Linked DNA regions of Homo sapiens. The protein of the gene in region 1 purifies or fractionates together with the protein of each later gene. This does not show direct contact. Each region holds a gene or a part of one and is shown on either strand. Other genes may lie near its edges. The genes, in order: KIF23, CEP170 and PHLDB2.

Region 1 (3,654 bases):
GGAGGATCAGGGATCTTCTCCTTGGGCACGAACGCGCTGACTGGGCAGGAGGCCATAAAGCTCTTGGCCAGAGTCCAAGGCAGCCCCTTCTTCTTGCACTCATCCTGCACGTCCCTGGCAGTAATGTCCAGGCACAGGGCATAGCTGCTCACGTAGTCCATAGCTGCGCGGCCATGCTTGCCCATCACCATGCCCAGCTCCAGCTCGTGGTGCAGGTTGCAGCTGTACGCGGGCATGAGGATGGGCGAGCCCTCAGGTGTGTAGGCCGTGGACAGCTTCAGAAACAGCACGGACTCGCTCAACACCGCGTTGGCATCTCCCTGGTGTGGTCCCCATAGTTCCTCCCCACACAGACGATATTCTTCCCCCACCCCCAGAAGCGGGACGGTGGCCTGGGGGTCGCCATGATTCCTGTCAATTGCCTAGAGAATATATTTTAATATGAGGATATTAAACATCTCTATATAAGATATTCCTTCAGAGAATTTAGGATTTGGAAGAAACCTTATAGTCATTAACTGTAATGTTGCATTTTGTGGAAAATCCTGTTGGTAGAATCCCTGAAGGATGGCTGTTTAACCTTCCCAGAAATACTGCTATTGAAAGAGAGCCTGGACCATGCATAGACAGCTCTTTATATTGAGCCACAAAAATTTGTTATTTATAATTTCTATCTAGTAGTTGTTTGAAGTTGAGATTTTATAGGCAAACAGAACACACTTTAGCTACTATACTGTTGTTCTGAAATGGCGTCTATGTATTTTTTTCTGTCAGGTAATATTAATCAGTCACTAATGACGCTAAGAACATGTATGGATGTCCTAAGAGAGAACCAAATGTATGGAACTAACAAGGTAAGCAGCAGCCTTCTCTGTTCTTTTGTATAGTTTCATTTGTGTGCATTTTTTTTGCGTAACACATTTGGATATGAATGTCTTTGTAGATGGTTCCATATCGAGATTCAAAGTTAACCCATCTGTTCAAGAACTACTTTGATGGGGAAGGAAAAGTGCGGATGATCGTGTGTGTGAACCCCAAGGCTGAAGATTATGAAGAAAACTTGGTAATTTTAATGTATTTGTCCTATAAAGTCTTGAGTTTTTGTCGGGAAAACAGTTACTTGGATGAGCAGAATGACATTTTGAATATTTTAAAAATGGATAGAGAACCATTGATTGTAGAAGTAAACTAGGCTTGGTGTGGTGGCTTATGCTTATAATCCCAACATGTTGGGAAGCTGAGGTGGGACGATCAATTGGGCCCACCTGGGAGGTCGAAGCTGCAGTGAGTCGTGTTCATGCCACTGCACTCCAGCCTGGTGACAGACTGTCTCAAATAAATAAAAATAAGCAATCTTTGCTTCATTTAGTAATTTCTGGGACTTGGATATCCTTATTTTTTTTTAAACTCCATTTGTTTTGTGTTTTAGCAAGTCATGAGATTTGCGGAAGTGACTCAAGAAGTTGAAGTAGCAAGACCTGTAGACAAGGCAATATGTGGTTTAACGCCTGGGAGGAGATACAGAAACCAGCCTCGAGGTCCAGTTGGAAATGGTATGATTTGGTGTTGTATCATTTGTCCACTCATTGGTCTGTCTGTTTCTCTCTTTTTTAAAAAAAATTATTTCATTTAAGAGAAATGTTTACATACCTTCTGAAGAACCAAGCACATAATAATTTGAACAAAATTTAAATGAGCTTATTTTGCATACTATGATTCTTAGGTAAGTAAACTTATGTCAGCTCAAGAAATTGCAATGGTTAGTTGCACTGGGGCTGTATGCAGTGTTAAACTTGTTTAAATAAGCTCTTTCTCTCCTATGTAACTTTTTGTAATTTTCTATAATTCAATACAGAACCATTGGTTACTGACGTGGTTTTGCAGAGTTTTCCACCTTTGCCATCATGCGAAATTTTGGATATCAACGATGAGCAGACACTTCCAAGGCTGATTGAAGCCTTAGAGAAACGACATAACTTACGACAAATGATGATTGATGAGTTTAACAAACAATGTAAGGGCAAAACTATTTGAAATAATTTTATTTAATTATTTTTTTTTTTTGAGACATAGTTTCACTCTGTACCCCAGGGTGGAGTGCAGTGGCACAATCTCGGTTCACTGCAACCTCCGCCTCCTGGGTTCAAGCGATTCTCCTGCCTTAGTCTCCCGAGTAGCTGGGACTACAGGCACATGCCACCACGCCTGGCTAATTTTTGTACTGTTAGTAGAGACGGGGTTTCGCCATGTAGGCCAGGCTGGTCTCAAACTCCTGACCTCAAGTGATCCGCCTGCCTCGGCCTCCTAAAGTGCTGGGATTACAGGCATGAGCCACCACTCCCAGCCAATTTGCAATAATTGTAACTTCTGAAATTGAAAGTATTTTCAATGAATCTGAGTTATATGGTAGATTGCATATTTAAGGAAGTTAAAGAAAATTGTGTCTTTAGAACTTTGAAGCACTCAAGGCATTGTTTGATTAGTATGACAAGGCATTTTTCCACAGCTCTTTTTTGTATTCTAAGGAAGTCAAAAAGAAAAAAGTGAGCGTGTGTTCTTTCTTTTGTTTTTTACAGTGATGGAGACACAAAGAAATATTTTTTAGTTTCCCCTGTCTACATAGTGGGGATTGTAATTGTTTCTACCTCAGGATATGTTGTGAAGATAAATAAGATAAAGTATGAAAATCCTGTAGAACAGTAAATTCTGGTACATAGTGAATGTATCTCAGTGAATGAATGTATCTACTTTTTTTTTTTTTTTTTTTTTTGAGACTGAGTCTCGCTCTGTTGCCCAAGTTGGAGTGCAATGGCGCAATCTCGGCTCACTGCAACCTCCGCCTCCTGGGTTCAAGCGATTTTCCTGCCTCAGCCTCCTGAGTAGCTGGGATTATAGGTGCACACCACCACGCCCTGCTAATTTTTGTATTTTTAGTAGAGACGGGGTTTCACCATGTTGGTCAGGCTGGTCTCAAACTCCTGACATCGTGATCCACCCACCTTGGCCTCCCAACATGCTGGGATTACAGACGTGAGCCACCATGCCTGGCTCTACTATTTTTATTATCATTATTCATTTGAATCTTTACCAAAAAGTTGTGAGATAAAGTGGTATTTAAATTTCCATACTGAAATGAAATTTGCCCAGAAATATTAATTAACTCGCCTAAGTCATAACTAGTAAGTGATGTTCCAAGGATTTCAGCTCAGGTTTAATTAATCCCAAATAGTAGTGTTGTTTCTATTTTTGCGTTTGTTGTTGTGAAGCAAAGTACCTGTAAGGATTGGGAAGAGAATGCTATAGTGCACAGTGAAAGACTTGAGTATTTTTTCAGCATTTAACAGAAAGCTTCTGTGAATATCTTGTCAACTGGAGAATGAAGCTCCTGATTTCCCTCTAAACTTGTTTTCTCATTATAGACTGATTCTCACAGAGATTTGCTGAATAACTACATTTTATCTAGTGTCTGCTAGCAAAAGTTGATATCATTGTTTGTTTTAGAACTGGTGTAAAACTTGACCTGTATGTTTTTGTTTCAGCTAATGCTTTTAAAGCTTTGTTACAAGAATTTGACAATGCTGTTTTAAGTAAAGAAAACCACATGCAAGGGAAACTAAATGAAAAGGAGAAGATGATCTCAGGACAGAAATTGGA
Region 2 (3,654 bases), on another chromosome or scaffold:
AAGGTGCTTATAGGAGGAAATGAGGTTGCATAGAGATTTTATTCATTGATTTTAAGTGCTATGAGCATTCATTGGAGGATTTTGAGCAAAGCCAAAAAATTGGGTTATATTTTTAAAGAATGGCTCTGGGAATTCTTTAAAACACTGGGAACCATGAGATAAGCTAGGAAATGATTGGAATGATCTGGTTTAAGAGACATTAATGGCTTAGACTAGAGCGACAGTAGTGGCAATAGTGAAAGTTACTAGTTTCTGGCTTTAGAGAGTCAAATGTTTTGGATATGTTAAGTTTGAAGTGTCTGTTAAACGCCCAAGTGGACACATCAGGTAGGCAGTTAGATATGTAAGTCAAGCATTCAGAGGAGAGGTTTGGACTGAGGATAGTTAAATGTTAAGCATCACCAGTAGACTTAAAGGGATCTCTTGGCTAGGGAGTTAGACTGAGAAGAGATCCAAGAATTGAGAATTGGTACTTTCCACATGGAAAGCTGAGCAAAAGAGAAGGCGCCATCGAGGAGGATTGAAAAGTGGACAGTGGGGTGTGAGGAAACTGAAGAGTGTGTTGTCCCACAAGCCAAGTAAAGGAAGTATTTTTAGAGATAAGGAGTGATCAGTCCCCTGTATCACCTTTAATCACCTAAATACTTCATAAGAAATCAGGCAGTATCCTCTTTCTTTCTGAATGGTCTCTGAGAAAGCAATTTCCTTTTTTAAATCTGGTTTATCAACATGAATGTTCACAGTTATTCTCCCCTGGCAACTACTAAATCTAAAGCCCTGAACAAAGTTTTACTCATAAAGAGGCCAATGCTGTTTCCTACGTGGATGAGTATGGCAGCTGCTGCTGCCTCTGATGTTTGAACAGGAGAAGCGATGCTGTTTCATAGGAAGAATTTATCAGGAAGCTAGTGATAGTCCAGCTACCTCAGAGGTTTATTGTGGTAGCCAAACGAGGTAGATGTAAAAACCAAATGAAAGGTATAATTGCAGATAGGGGTCTCCTTCCCTTATTGCCCCAAGTGTGGTACCAACTTGATAGTGTTAGATTTGAAGAACTATGTTGGCAAATAAAAATATTTTTCATTTTGAGTCTGTAGGAATAGTTTTTTACTTCCTATGCACTCTATCCCGATAGGCAGTTTCGCACATCATTTTATAATATTCTTGAGGGTAGAGAAAAGGGCTAGAAAGAGGATAAGAACAACCAGGGCAGGCGCGGTGGCTCACGCCTGTAGTCCCAGCACTTTGGGAGGCCGAAGCGGGTGGATCACCTGAGGTCAGGAGTTCGAGACCAGCCTGGCCAACATGGTGAAACCCCGTCTCTACTAAAAATACAAAAATTAGTCAGGCGTGGTGGCGCAGGCCTGTAATCCCAGCTACTCAGGAGGCTGAGGAAGGAGAATTGCTTGAGCCCAGGAGATGGAGATTGCAGTGAGCCAAGATCACGTCACTGTACTCCAGCCTGGGCAACAGGGTGAGACTCCATCTCAAAAAAGAAAGAAAAGAACAACCAGGCTTTGAGATAATAGCTTTTTTTCCCAATCCTAAACTCATCCTTTAATTCTAAACAGTGTCTAAATAAAGAGAATTGAGGTAGAAAAGTAAGCAAGTTAAAAGGCTTCCTTACTTTTTTTTTCCCTAGGCCAGCCAGGAAGACTTTCTTCTTTTAACTGACTTTTTTCTGGAAAGTGTTCAACTGAGTAATGGTTTGTCACATGTTACATGGAATAGAAAAAGTGCAAATTCAAAGCTTAGGGACTGGTTAGGGGTTTTGAACTCTAGGCAGCCAGCTAGAAACTGATTTGAGGAAGCAGGAGGGTGGGGGAAATGAGTCTGCTTGATGATAATAGGGGTAAAGTGCAAAATACTTATTTTGGTGAAAAAGGAACATCGCAAATACAGGACTTTTTGTGGTAAGCTTTTTGAGGCAATAGGACTATAACTTCACAATACATAGGTATCTTGCAGACCTTATATAATATGATTTGCTATGGCTGGTCATTAAATACTTCTCCTTGGATAAAAAATGCATATAATGCATTGCAAATTGAAGGCCATTTTATTTTTTATATTACAAATCTAATCCTAATACATGGCAGAAAATTTAGAAAACAAGATTTTCTACCATTAAGTACTATCATAATCCCACTAGCCAGTAACCCTGTTATGTATTCTTGTCTATTCTGGTTTAATTTGGTAACATTTTATCATGAAGTTAAACTTTCTGGCTCTAACTTTTAATGTGGCATAGAATCTGTCTTCTCAAACATGTAATCTACTTACACACAATTTATGAAAATTAAATGTATTTTTAAAATTGTAAACAACAGGCCGGGCCCAGTGGCTCATGCCTGTAATCCCAGCACTTTGGGAGGCCGAAGCCAGCAGATCACTTGAGGTCAGGAGTTCAAGACCAGCCTGGCCAACATGGGGAAACCCTGTCTCTACTAAAAATACAAAAATTAGCTGAGCGTGGTGGTGCACACCTGTAATCCCAGCTACTCGGGAGGCTGAGGCAGGAGAATCGCTTTAATCCAGGAGGCAGATGTTGTAGTGAGCTGAGATTGCTCCACTGCACTCCAGCCTGGGTGGCAGAGCGAGACTCTGTCTCAAAAAAAAAAAAAAAAAAAAAAAGTAAACAACACTGTAATGGACATTTCTAACTCTGAATTTCTGTGCAAATCAATGTTTTTCTTTGATTTCAACAAATTATGCTTAAAATACAATGCAGATACAAATGCAGAATTCTACTAATTAAACCTTTTCTAACTTTTTAATAAAATTACCCCCTCCAGTTTATATCAGTTTATTCTTCTACCACTGGCATATGAAACTGTGTGTTTCTTCACCCCTTCATCAGTGCTGAATATTACGTATCTTTTTTAAAATTTGCTTTCTTTTTTCTTTTTTTTTTTGAGACGAGGTCCCGCTCTGTTACCCAGGCTAGAGTGGAGTGGTGTGTTCATGGCTTGCTGCAGCCTTTACCTCCTGGGCTCAAGGGATCCTCTCCGCTCAGTCTCCCAGGTAGCTGGGACTGTAGGCATGGGCTGCCATGCCCATCTAAGTTTTTTTGTTTTCTTTTCTTTTTTGTGTTTTTTTTGTTTTGTTTTTTGTTTTTTGTTTTTTGTTTGTTTGTTTTGTTTTCTTGAGATGGAGTCTTGCTCTGTCGCCCAGGCTGGATTGAAGTGGCGAGATCTCGGCTCACTGCAACCTCTGCCTCGCGGGTTCAAGCAATTCTTCTGCTTCAGCCTCCTGAGTAGCTGGAATTACAGGCACACACCACCACACCTGGCTAATTTTTGTATTTTTAGTAGAGACGGGGTTTCACCATGTTGGTCAGGCTGGTCTTGAACTCCTGACCTCGTGATCCGCTCACCTTGGCCTCCCAAAGTGCTGGGATTACAGGCGTGAGCCACCGCACTGGCCAAGGTTTTTTATTTTTTTATAGAGACAAGGTCTCATTTTGTTCCCTAGGCTGGTCTCAAACTCCTGGGCTCTAGCAGTTTTCCTGTCTCAGCATCCCAAAGTGGTGGGGTTACAGGCATGAGCCACCCAATCTGGACAGTTTTGCCACTTTGATGAACAACAACCAAAAAAAAAAACCTTATTTAAATTTCTTTTATCAATAACACTTGACATTTTTTTAAAATGTGC
Region 3 (3,654 bases), on another chromosome or scaffold:
AAAGAAGTTCCAGCTTCTTCCTGTCACAATAAAAGAGTGTAACCCCAGGCTACGATTCCCTTCTGTTATCCCTAGCTGTATTGAAGTCTGAGCTCTGTCAAAGAAGAAGAAGAAAAAAAAAATTCCAGATGGTATTCGAAGGTTCCTAAAAGTAATCACAATCAACAGCAATAACCATATTTCAAATGAGGATCTTCATCTCCTGTGAGCAGAGGCTACTTTTAAATCAGTCTACATTGTTTTACGTTAGGAATTGTTAGAAATCTTATAGGTCTCTTAGTAAAGAGGGTAAGCCATCAATCATAGGGATTTTTTAAAAAGTTTTGTGCTAGTCCCTTGAGTAAGACTAGTCTGTAGGAACTTTAAAATATTCTTTAGACTCTGCAAGTAATTTAGCTGCATGTTCCCTGTGATAACTCTCTTCAGCCAGTGAAGAGGACAGGTTGGGGGAGGACAGAAAGCAGAAGCAACCTCAATAAACTTTTGTGTCATTAGTTTCCTCACACTTGCAAAATTCCTTACTTTTACATAAATCATCAAGGTGTGATTTCTTCAATTAGGCTCACATTTGTGTTAAAGGAGCTTTACCAATATTTAAAGGAGACAATATCAATAAGTATTGAAATATATATACACACACATATATATATATATAAATTCAGCTCAACACAAATTAAAAGTGTGCTGTCTGTGATTACAGAAAATACAAGGAAGAGAATAATATTTTTTTTAAAAAAAAGACAGAAATGCAATTACCTAATTCTAAAATATGGGAAAGTCCCCAGGGGTGGGAGGAAGACTCATGAATAAGCAAATGGCAAGGGGGAAAAAAAAACAAGAGGAAGAGAGAAGTATTCTCGATTAAAGAGACTGAGGGCGCATACCAATTAAATGCAATGTGTGGACATGGTTTTGGATCCTGTTTTGAACAATCCATCTATTTTTTACAATGTATGAAGCTAGGCAAGGTGGCTGAGGCTCATAATCCCAGCACTTCAGGAGGCCGAGGCATGAGGATTGCTTGAGCCTAGGAGTTTGAGACCAGCCTGACCAGCACAGCAAGACCCCATCTCTACAGAAATTTAAAAAATTAGCCAGGCATGGTGGTGCATGCCTGTATTTCCAGCTACTCAGGAGGCAGAGGCGGAGAGGCAGAGGTGGAGGCAGGGGGATCACTTGAGCCCAGGAGGGCAAGGCTGCAGTGAGCCATGATCATGCCACTGCTCTCCAGTCTGGGTGACGCAGCAAGATCCTGTCATTTTTTTTTAAAAGTATGAGCTGGGAGCAGTAGCTCAGGCCTGTAATTCCAGCACTCTAGGAGGCCGAGGCAGGCAGATCACTGGAGCCCAGGATTCGAGACCAGCTTGGGCAACATGGTGAGACCCCATCTCTACAAAATATACAAAAATTAGCCAGGCATGGCGGCACAAGCCTGCAGTCCCAGCTACTGGGAAGGTTGAGGTGAGAGGATCAGTTGAACCCAGGAAACCAAGGCTGCAGTAAGCCAAGATAGTGCCACTGTACTCCAGCCTGGGTGACAGAGCAAGACCCTATCTCAAAAAAATAAAAATTAAAATTAAAAAAAGACATATGAGACAATCAGAGAATTTCAGACTGGAAACTAGATGATAATGCTGTGGTTTTTTAAAAGTGTGATGATGATATATCTTAAAAATACTCTTAGAGTTACATTGTAAATTATTTACGAATGAAATATGATGATGTTTGGAATCTGCTTTATAACAATCCATGTTTTAGGGTAAAGTGAGGTTTACAAATGAAACAAGATTAGCATATATAAATAATTGTTGAAGCTGGGTGATAAGTACATTGATCTTTGTTTATTATTTTATTATTATTTTAGTATACATTTAAATTTTTGTGTAGTTTAATATTTTTCATGATAAAGTATCTTTTAAAAAAGCTACGTGCATTCTGCAAGTCAACATCAATAAAATGTGTATACTGCCTTAAAAATTATAGTAGCTGACTTTACAAAGAAGGTTGGGGTCATATCACTGGCTCCTAGCTGATTTTTTTTTTAAGTATAAAATACTAACTCTTTATCATACTGAATTAAGTTCCTAAAAGCTGATACATGTATTTTTAAGTAACTGGGAGAAGTTTGAAAGCAAATACATTTTCAAGATAACAAGTAAGCAGGCCATCACATTTAAGATATTTGCAAGATAACGTTATGTGGGGTAGCTAAGTGTCACCACTGCGTGCCCAAATAATGATTTCTTCATAAAACTGTCAAACCCTCCATATCAAGAATTCCAGCCTCAATTAAAAGGTTAAAATACACACACACACACACACACACACACACACACACACACACACCCCTTAGAAACTTATGTTAAGGAAGAGAGTGGAGGAGCTCTTTAGGTCAAGTTCTTCACAGAATCCTAACCAAGGATCCTGATCAAGTCCCCCGTAAAGCTAGAAGGGTCTTCCTTTACTACGTAATCACCCAGTGAAGTGCAGAATCATGGGATAACTAACTTCAGATACTCTTCTTTAATCACAGGAGTGCTACAGGGAAAAGCACCCTCTGATCTTTTGATCTCAAAGCTAATTTCAAGCAAGAGAATTATCAACCTGGGGATCATATGTAGATAAAGATGCTCTCTCTTGACCCTGAAACCACCTCCGTGGACTTTAACTGGAAGCTGAGGAGAGTGTATGGGAGGGAAACTCTCCGATCTTGCCGCCATCCTGCCCCATCCCACACTACTGATCAAAAGACACTCCCTTAAGAGTAATATTTAATTTTTCCAAAGTAACATTCCCCAGACCTAAATACTTGCTGGAATTCCCATTCCCTAACCCAAGATTTATGAACTGGGAATAGTCAGGGTACAAACAGGCTCACAAGAGGTGGAACAAACACAGGTCAACCACATCTTCCATGTTTGTAATGCATTTCGCTTTACATCACAAATTGAGTACATGAGGCCGGGCTCGGTGGCTCATGCCTGTAATTCCAGCACTCTGTGATGCTGAGGTGGGCAGATCACCAAAGGTCAGGAGTCTGAGACCACCCTGGCCAATATGGCGAAACCCCATCACTATTAAAGTACAGAAATTAGCTGGGTGTGGTGGTGCATGCCTGTAATCCCAGCTACTCGGGAGGCTGAGGCAGGATAATCACTTGAACCTGGGAGGCCGAGGTTGCAGTGAGCTGGATCGCACCACTGTACTCCAGCCTGGGTGACAGAGCAACTCTGTCTCCAAAAAAAAAAAAAAAAAAAAAAAATGAGTGGGTGGGGTAGGTTTCTAAAATATTGTAAAGTAAAAATAATAATTATGATAATATCATATCTTCATTACTTAGCAGCTGATTGTGCAGAATGAGTATTATAAAACACTTAATTTTTCCCTTCCATGCTATCTACCTTTTGACCACTTACTGCTTGAAAGAAGGGAAATAACTTGAACAAGTCAAGATAAACAATTGACTAAGTTTAATTTAATTTTAATCAATGCTTTTTTTTTAATAACTCTGGCCAAAAGATCTAATAAAGGAAATGGTTACGTTAGGATGTTATTTTTATTACAGTGGCCAATCTAGTAGAAAGAACACTGGATAGGCTGCCAGGGAAGCAAGTCAGAAGATCCATCTTAGTTCTGGTTCTGCTAACAGAACTA

The links.
Region 2: the proteins of KIF23 (region 1) and CEP170 purify together in Homo sapiens (affinity purification with mass spectrometry; 2 studies listed by BioGRID and IntAct, with this or other methods). This does not show direct contact.
Region 3: the proteins of KIF23 (region 1) and PHLDB2 purify together in Homo sapiens (affinity purification with mass spectrometry; 2 studies listed by BioGRID and IntAct, with this or other methods). This does not show direct contact.

The regions. Positions count from the first base shown.
Region 1 is NC_000015.10:69,434,709-69,438,362, forward strand, and holds part of KIF23 (kinesin-like protein KIF23), read left to right. Parts: intron 1-774; coding exon 775-854; intron 855-943; coding exon 944-1,063; intron 1,064-1,429; coding exon 1,430-1,553; intron 1,554-1,855; coding exon 1,856-2,014; intron 2,015-3,539; coding exon 3,540-3,654.
Region 2 is NC_000001.11:243,245,207-243,248,860, reverse strand, and holds part of CEP170 (centrosomal protein of 170 kDa), read left to right. Parts: intron 1-3,654.
Region 3 is NC_000003.12:111,865,623-111,869,276, reverse strand, and holds part of PHLDB2 (pleckstrin homology-like domain family B member 2), read right to left. Parts: intron 1-3,654. UniProt on the Homo sapiens protein: Seems to be involved in the assembly of the postsynaptic apparatus. May play a role in acetyl-choline receptor (AChR) aggregation in the postsynaptic membrane.